4 separate regions of the Homo sapiens genome follow, and all the other regions are linked to region 1. The links come from fine-mapping of genetic effects on gene expression. A gene starts in region 1. Each other region holds a variant in brackets. All regions are shown on one strand. Distances are between the middles of the regions.

Evidence for each region. PIP is the estimated chance that this variant, and not a neighbour inherited with it, causes the effect.
Region 2: its variant is the best candidate, but not a certain one, in a credible set for the expression of TMEM123 in whole blood (TOPMed, PIP 0.87).
Region 3: its variant is the best candidate, but not a certain one, in a credible set for the expression of TMEM123 in whole blood (INTERVAL, PIP 0.62).
Region 4: its variant is the best candidate, but not a certain one, in a credible set for the expression of TMEM123 in whole blood (INTERVAL, PIP 0.57).

What each region holds. Positions count from the first base shown.
Region 1 is chr11:102,451,375-102,454,062 of GRCh38, reverse strand. TMEM123 (transmembrane protein 123) reads left to right here and starts at 1,298. Exons shown (of 5, transcript NM_052932.3): 1 at 1,298-1,539. The coding sequence starts at 1,440. TMEM123-DT (TMEM123 divergent transcript) reads right to left here and starts at 1,144. Exons shown (of 2, transcript NR_135053.1): 1 at 1,014-1,144. RefSeq lists enhancers at 935-1,044, 1,775-2,064, 2,245-2,294 and a silencer at 1,165-1,454.
Region 2 is chr11:102,363,017-102,365,704 of GRCh38, reverse strand. BIRC2 (baculoviral IAP repeat containing 2) reads right to left here. Exons shown (of 9, transcript NM_001166.5): 5 at 1,989-2,037. Among named protein-coding and RNA genes, the nearest start is that of BIRC2, 17 kb to the right of the region's middle. The variant C/A (reference allele first, on the strand shown) is at 1,221.
Region 3 is chr11:102,430,590-102,433,277 of GRCh38, reverse strand. The region is part of intron 2 of TMEM123 (transmembrane protein 123); the gene reads left to right. Among named protein-coding and RNA genes, the nearest start is that of TMEM123, 21 kb to the left of the region's middle. The variant GGA/A (reference allele first, on the strand shown) is at 999.
Region 4 is chr11:102,399,000-102,401,687 of GRCh38, reverse strand. TMEM123 (transmembrane protein 123) reads left to right here. Exons shown (of 5, transcript NM_052932.3): 4 at 1-149. Among named protein-coding and RNA genes, the nearest start is that of TMEM123, 52 kb to the left of the region's middle. The variant A/C (reference allele first, on the strand shown) is at 1,119.

The DNA.
Region 1 (2,688 bases):
ATTCCTAAACCAGATTCCCCAGTTAAATAGAATAACCAAAATCGAAATGTGCAATGCTTGCTTTTTGTCCATGATAAGCTGCAGGGGAAACATTTGCAGGTTGGCTGACTGAATCCACAGATGGAAGTCTCTGTAAATTTAGGACAGATTGTCTCAGTTAATCTCTAGGACCAGTCAGACCTCTGTAATGATGGATTTGCCTGACATGAGAAAGTTCTACCTCTCATAACACAGTTTTCAAAAGTTAACTGCAATGTGGCCTTTATGTGATGAAATCTGGCTCAGGTGCCAAAGATCTGCAACATTAAGACCTTTGCAGGTGGGGATTCACTGTGATTTTAGGTTCCTTGGATCCTTCAGTCTTCTACTTCAGCTGAGGGTTCCCACCCAAGCCAGGACTCAGCCTTTGTTATTCTCATGCATTAGCCACAGGTAGCTATGTCACTTCAGAGTTCTGAGCACGATGAAAATGCAGACTTTACAAGCACTTCAAGTCAAGACAAGTGATTAGCATTGGCTCCAAGGGTTTAAAAGGAACTCAGCCAAAAACTGTTCAAAACTGGCCATTTCATCTGAACTGGGACAGCAGGGCACAAGGAGAGAAAAGGCTGGTTGGATTAATGCAGCCCCCGCTTTCCATGGCTCTACTGTATTTCACTGAGAGTTGCTACCAACTCCTGCGCGCGCCCCCACCCGCCCACTCCACTAATCTCGTGTCTTAATCAGAGATACAGGGAACCCGTGGAGAAGATGAAGTACAACTGGGATAAGAAGATCGTAGGTGTTTTACGTTTGAATTTAAGCAACAAATCTGTCGAGCTGTTTTTCTCCACTTCCCCCTTAGGCTGGGTCACGCGAGGGGAAAGCTCCGACCGCCCAGGACTCCTTAGAGTGAATCCCATCCCCTCAAGTTCCTCTCCAGAATCTCCCCCTCCTCCCGCCTTTGCCCTGCAACTCCTCCCTCTCACTCTGAGTCGCACGCACCCCTGTCCCCTCCCTGCCCGCAAAACTACTCTTCAAAGGCTTCCTTCCGGGCACCGCGAAGCCAGCGTGCTCAGCATTCAGGGAGGCAGCGGCGCTCGCCTTCATCCAGGACAACAAAACTGCCATTTCCGAAGAGAAAGGAAACGGCTCGCGGTTTCTGGGGTTCCCAAGCGCGCGCCTGCGAGGGAGGCCGCGAGCCGAGTCGCCACGCCCAGAACCCCGAGCCCGCCCCCGCGCCACCCAGCCCGGCCCCGCCGCCCCGGCTGCGCACGCGACGCCCCCTCCAGGCCCCGCTCCTGCGCCCTATTTGGTCATTCGGGGGGCAAGCGGCGGGAGGGGAAACGTGCGCGGCCGAAGGGGAAGCGGAGCCGGCGCCGGCTGCGCAGAGGAGCCGCTCTCGCCGCCGCCACCTCGGCTGGGAGCCCACGAGGCTGCCGCATCCTGCCCTCGGAACAATGGGACTCGGCGCGCGAGGTGCTTGGGCCGCGCTGCTCCTGGGGACGCTGCAGGTGCTAGCGCTGCTGGGGGCCGCCCATGAAAGCGCAGCCATGGCGGGTAAGTGGCTGCGGGGGTCGTCAGCCCCGTTCGTGGGAGGCAGCGCGCTGCCGAGGCTTGGGTTCCCAAGTTGGGCTCTGGTACAGAAAGTTCCGCGTGTGTCTGGCCGAACGCTCGGGGCGGACCCAGAGGTGACCGGGCGGGGTGGGGGAAACTGAGGTTTGGACCAGTCACCCGCTGGCCCCGGGGCCGCCTGCTGAGGAAATTGCCTGGTGCTTCCCCTCTCGCTTTTTGGATGCGGCGGTCGCAGGCCGGGACGGGTGCGCATAACCTGTTGAGTTACCGCAAGTTGGTTTTTACAGCCTTTCCCTGAAGTTAATGTTTGCCGAGGTTAGAGTTTCTAAGGCTTCCGTTTGTAAACAAGATTAGCTGAGTTGAAAAATATGTCTACCTAGGCCCGCGGAAACGTCTCCCAGTTAGTCGGGGAGCTTTTCAAGCGTCCCCCAGGCATTTCAGCGTCTAATATTATGCAGTATTATCCAGATGAATTACAATCTTTAGGTCCCCCTGACGCTCGAAGTTAGACTTCGGGGCTCTTGGAGCTAGTTGGGAGCTTTTGGGGAGCGCGCCCCGCCCTCGCGGTAGTTGAGGCGGCCGCCCCCATGGCGGGGCGCTCTCCACCCCTCGTGTGCCATAAACACCCGGCCGAGGCGCGCGGCAGCTGCGCAGCGTTAAGGGCACAGCTGCACGGTCGCCGGTGGCCCTTGTCGTCGCTAGTAAGGTCGTAACAGGATGATGTTGACTTTGCTTTTCTGTGTAGGGCGGAATTTGTTTCGTTTTAGGCCCTTGGCCCTTTGGAGACTTCAAACAGCCCTTTTTGGATGAAACCAGGAAGTTGGGATTTGTTGTGTAAATACTGTTTTCCTTTGTCAACTGTTAGAGAAGTCAGGTCCCTAGGTAATGGTCAGTAAACTAGGATAAGTTAAGTAACCCAAGGTTTTCATGGTTTTAAGTTCTATCCATCCACTGTATATGTTAGCCTTAGGTTCGTTTTATCCAGCAAAAGAAAAAGGCAGTTTGTAAATCTGGAAGGTTCAGGCACAACACTTGCTTTTTCTGGAATAACCTGGGTGAATTAACAATTTTTCTTTGTTTTGCTGAAGTTTTTTTGTTTGCTTAATTGTGCGTGTGACAAACTGGCTTCGCAGA
Region 2 (2,688 bases), 88 kb after region 1:
CTTGGGAGGCTGAGGTGAGAGAATCACCTGAGCCAGGGAAGTTAAGGCTGCAGTGAGCCATGATGGCACCTAACCACACTACAGCCTGGGTGACAAAGTGAGACCTTGTTTCACAAAAAGAAAAAACAACGACAAAGCACCCAGTGATTATCAAATGCTAATTAACAGGTCAAGTAGTGGATTTGCTAACACGGCAGTCCCTGGTTACCATGACAAGAACAGTTTCTAGCAGAACAAGTGAAAGAATGAAAGGTGAGGAAGTAAAACAGAGTTAAGCACAGATAAATCTTCCTAGGTATTTTGTTGTAAAGGGAAGCAGAGTAATAAGGTAATAGCTGAATGGGGACATTCATTCATGGAAATTTTCCTAGGATTAGCAAAAGTACATTATGTTTATATGCTAACATGAGTGATTCAGGAGAGGTGGAAAAATTGAAGACTCGAGAGAAAGGGTATGTCACTGCCAAAGTAACCTTCTTAAGTTGACAGTAGGGGATGGAATACAGAGGACAAGTAGAAGTAATGGCCTTAGAAAAGGGCAAGGACAATTCATCTTTTATGAACAAACAGAAAAGTACAAGGATAAATTATGTAGCCTAGTGGTTTTGCTGGTGAGGCAATAAAGCAGCTCTCTTTTGGATTCTATTTTCTTAGGGAAGCAAGATTATAAACTGACAGTAAGGTGGGAAGAGAGTGTTAGAAAATTATCAAGACAGAAAACAAGAAACAGTCATTTTAAAGATTGACAAAGTGATTTTATTAGGACCTATGGTAGAACTGCAGGGCAGCCTACTTAATAGCAGTGGTTATAAATTTTAAGAACAGCCCACACTGCTATCTATCTTTTCTAGGTCTATTACACGGGAGATAGTTGTCATGTACCCAGGTACTCTCCTTCCTATTTTCCAGTACTCTCCTTCCTATTTTCCAGTCAAATACTACCAAATCCTTCATCCAATCCTCCTGAGCCATGGTTTCTAAGACTCATACATCTTGGTCACCTTTCTCTGGTCCAGTTAACAAATCTGCCAATCTTTCTTGAAATGCTGTGCCACAAACAGAATGGCCCTTTGTAGATGTGATTGGCACATAAAACGGGATTACTACCTTAGCCATTTTAGACACAATAACATATGTATATTACATAAATTGACAGATGTGGCTAACATTAAGCTCTAATCAAAAGCTATACTATTTCCTGCCCTTGCACTGAAATACAA[C/A]ATACCTGACTTAAATACCTAACATCTAGTCCAATTCTTGAATCATATGTGAATTGACGTTTTCCAAATCATGCCAACTCACAGCAAACTCTTCTTTTCTGGAGGGTTTATTATTTGCACCGCTTATTTGGCATTGCTTTGAACTATTTTTTGTTTTTCTTTTGCTTATGTCTCATTTCTCCAGTTGGAATGTCAGCACTAAAAGTGATAAGTATAGCACTAGAACAAAAACTAGTACACTTTTAGGGTCCTCCACAGTGTCATTACACTCTCTCTCTCTCTCTCTCTCTCTCTCTCTGTGTGTGTGTGTATATATATATATATATATATATATATATATATATAATATTTATTAGCTGACTTCCCAGTATTTTTCCCTATGGCTTCAGAAACTCTTTTAAAAAATACATACTTTCATTCCTACCTTTTTTTTTGGAGATGGAGTTTCGCTCTGTTGCCCAGGATGGAGTGCAATGGCATAATCTCAGTTCACTGCAACCTCCACCTCCTGGGTTCAAGCAATTCTCCTGCCTCAGCCTCCCGAGTAGCTGAGACTACAGGCACATCACACCCGGCTAAGTTTTGTATTTTTAGTAGATGGAGTTTTACTATGTTGGCCAGGCTGGTCTCGAACTCCTGACCTCAGGTGATCTGTCAACCTCGGCCTCTCAAAGTGTTGGGATTACAGGCATGAGCCACTGCACCCAGCCTATTCCTAAAATTCTTATAAAAATTTACACTCTATACTTAAAATTATCTCATACATACTTGGTGGGTCAGCATTTTCTTCTCCAGTGGTATCTGAAGTTGACAACAGCTATGAAACAAGAGAAAAGTTAATAGGTAAAAGCAGATATCCCCAACAATCTGAAAAGAACAACACTAAAATAAGCTTACTTTAAGTAAATGTATATGTTCTTTTGAGAACTGAGTGATTTATGACCTTTGCTTTGCTTTCTTTTACCCTAATCACATAGATTTCCTTAAATTTCATGTCATCCCAAATTAGAAATCAAGTATTTCTCTAGTTTCAGGAAAGTAGAAAAATGTATCAGTGGTTTCTCATTTCATTTGGAAAATAAGATTTTAACTGGGTTACTCTCCAAGGGTCTCAGCTCCTAACAAGTTATTTTTTGTTTGTTTTTCTGGAAAACAGCAAAGAGACACTAAAGATCCTTCTCCAATCCCATCACAAATTTGTACAGTGGCAGCATAAATGATTTTTCAAAATAGTAAAAACAAAAAAACAATCTTTTTTAAAAAGCCCTCAAAAATCAAGTTGGTTACAAAAGTAAAAACCAAAGATGTCATTAACATGGATGAAAGTATGTACCTACAATTAATAAAAGAGAAATAAGCATAACTTCTAATATAGGTTGGTACAAAAGTGATCACGGTTTTGGCCATGACTTTCAATGGCAAAAATCATGATCACTTTTATACCAACCTAATAATATTTTTGTTATTA
Region 3 (2,688 bases), 21 kb after region 1:
CCCCTGTGGCTTTGCAGAGTACAGCCCCCTTCCCAGATGCTGTCACTAGCTGGCGTTGAGTGTCTGTGGCTTTTCCAGACACAGTGCAAGCTGTTGATGGGTCTACCATTCTGGGGGCTGGAGGACAGTGGCCCTCTTCTCACAGCTCCACTAGGCAGTGCCCCAGTGGGGACCCTGTGTGAGGGCTCCAGCCCCACATTTCCCTTCTGCACTGCCCTAGCAGAGTTTCTCCATGAGGCCTCCACACCTGCAGCAAACTTCTGCCTGGACTTCCAGGCATTTCCATACATTCTCTGAAATCCAGTCAGAGGTTCCCAAACCTCAATTCTTGACTTCTGTGCACCCACAGGCTCAACACTACATGGAAACCACCAAGGCCTGGGGCTTGCACCCTCTGAAGCAATGGCCTGAGCTGTACTTTGACCCCTTTTAGCCATGGCTGGAGCTGAAGCAGCTGAGACGCAGGGCACTATGTCCCCAGGCTGCATAGAGCAGGGGGCCCCTGGGCCTGGCCCAGGAAACCATTTTTCCCTCCTAGGCCTCCAGGCCTGTGATGGGAGGGGCTGCTGTGAAGGTATCTGACATGCCCTGGAGACATTTTCCCCATTGTCTTTTGGTGGTTAACATTTGGCTCCTTGTTACTTATGCAAATTCCTGCAGCCGGCTTGAATTTCTCCTCAGAGAATGGGTTTTCTTTTCTGTCACATCATCAGGCTACATATTTTCCAAACTCTTACGCTCTGCTACCTCTTGAATGCTTTGCTGCTTAGAAATTTCTTCTGCCAGGTACCCTAAATCGTGTCTCTCGAGTTCTAGTTCCACAGATCTCTAGGGCAGGGGCAAAATGCCACCAATCTCTTTGCTAAAGCATAGCAAGAGTGACCTTTACTCCAGTTCTCAACAGGTTCCTCAAATCTGCATCTGAGACCACCTCAGCCTGGACTTCATTGTCCATATCACTATCAGCATTTTGGTCAAAGCCGTTCAACAAGTCTCTA[GGA/A]AGTTCCAAACTTTCCCACATCTTTTTGTCTTCTGAGCCCTCCAAGTCTCTAGGAAGTTCCAAACTTTCCCACATTTCCCTGTCTTCTTCTAAGTCCTCCAAACTGTTTAAACCTCTGCCTGTTAACCAGTGCCAAAGTCGCTTCCACATTTTCAGCTATCCTTAGAGTAGCACCCCACTCCCAGTACCAATGTACTAGATTAATCTGTTCTTACACTGCTTTGAAGAAATACCCAAGATGGATTAATTTATAAAGAAAAGAGGTTTAATTGACTCAGTTCCACATGGCTAGGGAAGGCTTCAGGAAACTCACAATCATGGCAGAAGGCGCCTCTTCACAGGGTGGCAGGAGAGAGAAAGTGCCAGCAGGGAGATGCCAGACGCTTAAAAAACCATCAGATCTCCTGAGAACTCACTCACTATCATGGGAACAGCATGGGGGAAACTGCCCCCATGATTCAGTTACCTACCACCGGGTCACTGCCATGACACATGGGGATTACAATTCAAGATGAGATTTGGGTGGGGACACAGCCAGCCCATATCACCAAGTTGTAGAATCAACCTAACTGTTTATCAGCAGATGAATGGATAAAGCACATGTGATACATATACACACAATGGAATACTATTCAGCTTTAAAAAAGCAAATGTGCAAATTCTGTCATTTGAGACAACATGGATGGAACTGCAGAGAGTAGAATGGTGGTTCCCAGAAGCTGCAGGGTGGGGAAAAAGGGGAGATGATGGTTAAAGGATACAGAGCCTCAGAGAAGAGGAAAACTTTCTTTTTTCTAGTTCTATTGCACAGCATAGTGAATATAGTTTATCGTGTATGGTACCTTCCAAAATCGCTGAGTAAAATTTCAATGTTCTCACCACAAAAATAAGTATTTGAGGTGATGGATATGTTAATTAGCATGATTAAATTATTCTACATGTATTCATAAATCATAACATCACTTTATACCTATAAATTTATACAGCTGTAATTTGTCAGTTTACAAAGATAAGTATGTGAGGTAATGCCTATATTTATTTAGCGATTCCACATTGTGTACATATATCAAAATATCATGTTGTACACCATAAATACAGTTTTTTTTTAAGTATCCCACCGACTATTTTTAGTTTTTCTTTTTTAATCCAATGACATAAGCACAGTTTCCTAAAATGGGAACTGACCCTCTCCTACAAAACATTTCATTATGGTTATATCTTCATGACATGAAAACAACTAGTTGAAAAGTGATGACTTTTTTAGTCTATTACCTGACTGTTCAGTAAGAATTGGTTTGACTACTTTTTTCACCCCACATTGAATTTGGTTCACTAGTTTAGTGGTCCCTCCCCCATGTCATCCCCACCCAGTATGTGTATTATGTTGTATTTTGGGGAAGATACAAAGAGAAAAATTGCTTTGCTGTTAATTGAATTTGGGCAAGCTACTTAATCTCTGCCTTCTCACTTCCTGCTATGAAATAGAGCTGATTATAGAAAGATGGCTGTCTCATGCGGCTAAGAGAGTATAGCCATCTCATGGGTTAAATGAGGTAACATGTAAAGCACCTGGCACAAAACCAGGACCTAAATAAACGTGTTTTTCCTAGCTCTGTGGCCACACTTACCTTTTTGGTTCCTCCTTTCTCTGCCCTCTCTGCCATGAGACCTTTGCATGTTCTGTTCTC
Region 4 (2,688 bases), 52 kb after region 1:
ACAACTATGCATTCTGAAGCAAAGAAAGGATCAAAATTTGATACTGGGAGCTTTGTTGGTGGTATTGTATTAACGCTGGGAGTTTTATCTATTCTTTACATTGGATGCAAAATGTATTACTCAAGAAGAGGCATTCGGTATCGAACCATGTAAGTTTTGAATGGCCAGGACTTTTTAAAAAAAATTGTTGGTGCACATCTTTAATTATGATAGAATATCAAGCCAGTGCTCATCTCAGGGATGAATAATTGATAGATTTATGAGTTATATTCCCATTAACCCTTTTGGCCCAAAGTAAATTGTTTATGTACAAGCTTGTGATTATAATTATTTGCAAATGAAAATGGATGTATATACTTAAAAAAATGTATTTTACTAGTGTCAAACACACTTTACAGGAGACCAAAGTTAACCTACCCTGAAATTTTCACTTACTCATACCAATAATCGTAAGAAATACCAGTTCCCAGCAGGCTTTTGACTTAGTATGTCTGTGTCTGTTGTGGTACTAAATAGCATCCTTGGTAAAACCATGGCTTTTGTTTTCCACGACAAAGACAAAAAAAATTCCTCTGACAGCCTCATTATCCCTGAAAATTTAAATGAGTGGTTAGTATAAATAATATAATTTATCATTTTACCTGTAGCAAAACTCTCTTTTTAGATGTGCATTATCAACAAGACCTAATCCATGTTTACTCTACATGTAGCTCTATAGGTCTGATGGTTTGAGGATATATCCAAACTTTTGTTGCTCCAATAGTCCTTTTTGTTTTTGTTTTTTTGAGTCTTACGTGTTGTCTTAGTTCATGCTGACACAACAAAGTATCATACAGCTGGGTGCCTTAAACAGCAGACATTTAGTTCTCACACTTCCGGAGGCTTGGAAGTCCAAGATCAGGGTGCCACCATGGTTGAGTTCTAGTAAGGGCCTTCTTCACATGGCAGAAAGAAGGCGAGCTAGTTCTCTGACCTCTAATTGTAAGGGTATTAATTCTGTTCACGAGGGTTCCACCCTCACGACCTAACTACCTTCCCAAGGCCCCACTTCAAAATATCATCACACTGGGATTAGGGTTTCAACATACTCATATTGGGTGACACAAATGTAAGAGCTA[A/C]TTCACTTTTTTTAGTGTTAATGTATATAAATACCATAGAACAGATGACTGTTTTCCAAAATTTGCCCTGTGGGTTAACATTTGACATACATGTGTCCCACACACACAGTTCCTATATCAAAAAGTGTGGGAAATGTTCAGTTGACTAAAGTAAACTAAGACAGTTTACTATAAGACTTCTCTAAGCCTTTAAAATATTGATATACATTATGATTTTCCAGGATGGAATACAGTATGAACTGTTTCCCAAATTTTTAACCAAAATACTTGTTGAATGAATAAATCCCTCCCCCTGCCCCTCTTCAATGGGAGCTAACACTGTCTATCTCTTGGAACTAGTATTGTGTGGAACACATTTTGGGAAATGTTGGAATAGGCCATTGGAATCTTCCAGTTTTGACACTACATATGATTCAGTACACATAAAAGTAAATCAAACTTCTTGATAGATTTTAAGAACATGGAAGTTTCCCAGATTTTCAGGTTACTGACATAAGCTCTAAATAAACATCGCATCATAAATGAAAATTGGATCTAACAGTTATATTACTAATACTTAAACAAAAATGATAATTTAAGAACAGATTTTTTTTTTTTTTGAGATGGAGTTTCCCTCTTGTTGCCCAGGCTGGAGTGCAATGGCACGATCTCGGCTCACTGCAACCTCTGCCTCCTGGGTTCAAGCTATTCTCCTGCCTCAGCCTCCCCAGTAGCTGGGATTATAGGTGCCTACCACCACGCCCAGCTAATTTTTGTATTTTTGGTAGAGATGGGGTTTCACCATGTTGGCCAGGCTGGTCTCAAACTCCTGACCTTAGGTGATCCTCCCACCTTGGCCTCCCAAAGTGCTGGGATTACAGGCGTGAGCCACCATATCTGGCCTTAAAAACATATTTTTAAAAGTTATATTTAAAGTTACGTTGCATATATTTATCATATCAAACTCACTTTAGCTTCCATGATCACATGAGATCAGACACATTCACAGTGGCATGGCTGTAGGCTCAAACTGATTTTAAAAGAATATTAAGGTGGTGGTTTGTCAGATTAAAGGCATATTCAGAAACATTCTTTTTTAAGGTCAATACATGAAAGAATACATAAAAGAAACCATGACTAAACAGAGTGCTTTGCAGTGGCTCTGTCACCCAGGTTGGAGTGCAGTGGTGCGATCACGGGTCACTGCAACCTCAGCCTCCTGAGCTTAAGTGATCCTCTTACCTCAGCCTGCTGAGTAGCTGGGACTACAAGCATGCAATGCCACACCAGGCTAATTTTTAAATGTTTTATAGAGATGGTAGTCTCACTGTTTTGCCCAGGCTGGTCTCAAACTCCTGGGCTCAAGTGATCCTCCTTTCTGACCTCCTAGAGTTCTGGGATTATAAGCATGAGCCACTGTGACCAGCTAGAAAGAAATATTTAATAGGGACTTACAAATAGAAGCTATGTCTGTGTCTATGATTGCAGCAAGACAAGATGGTGGATCCCCATGCCATTAACCCCCAGATCTTTAACCACTACAGTATATTGGATACTTAAGGAACTTTACACAGAACACTGACCATTTTGA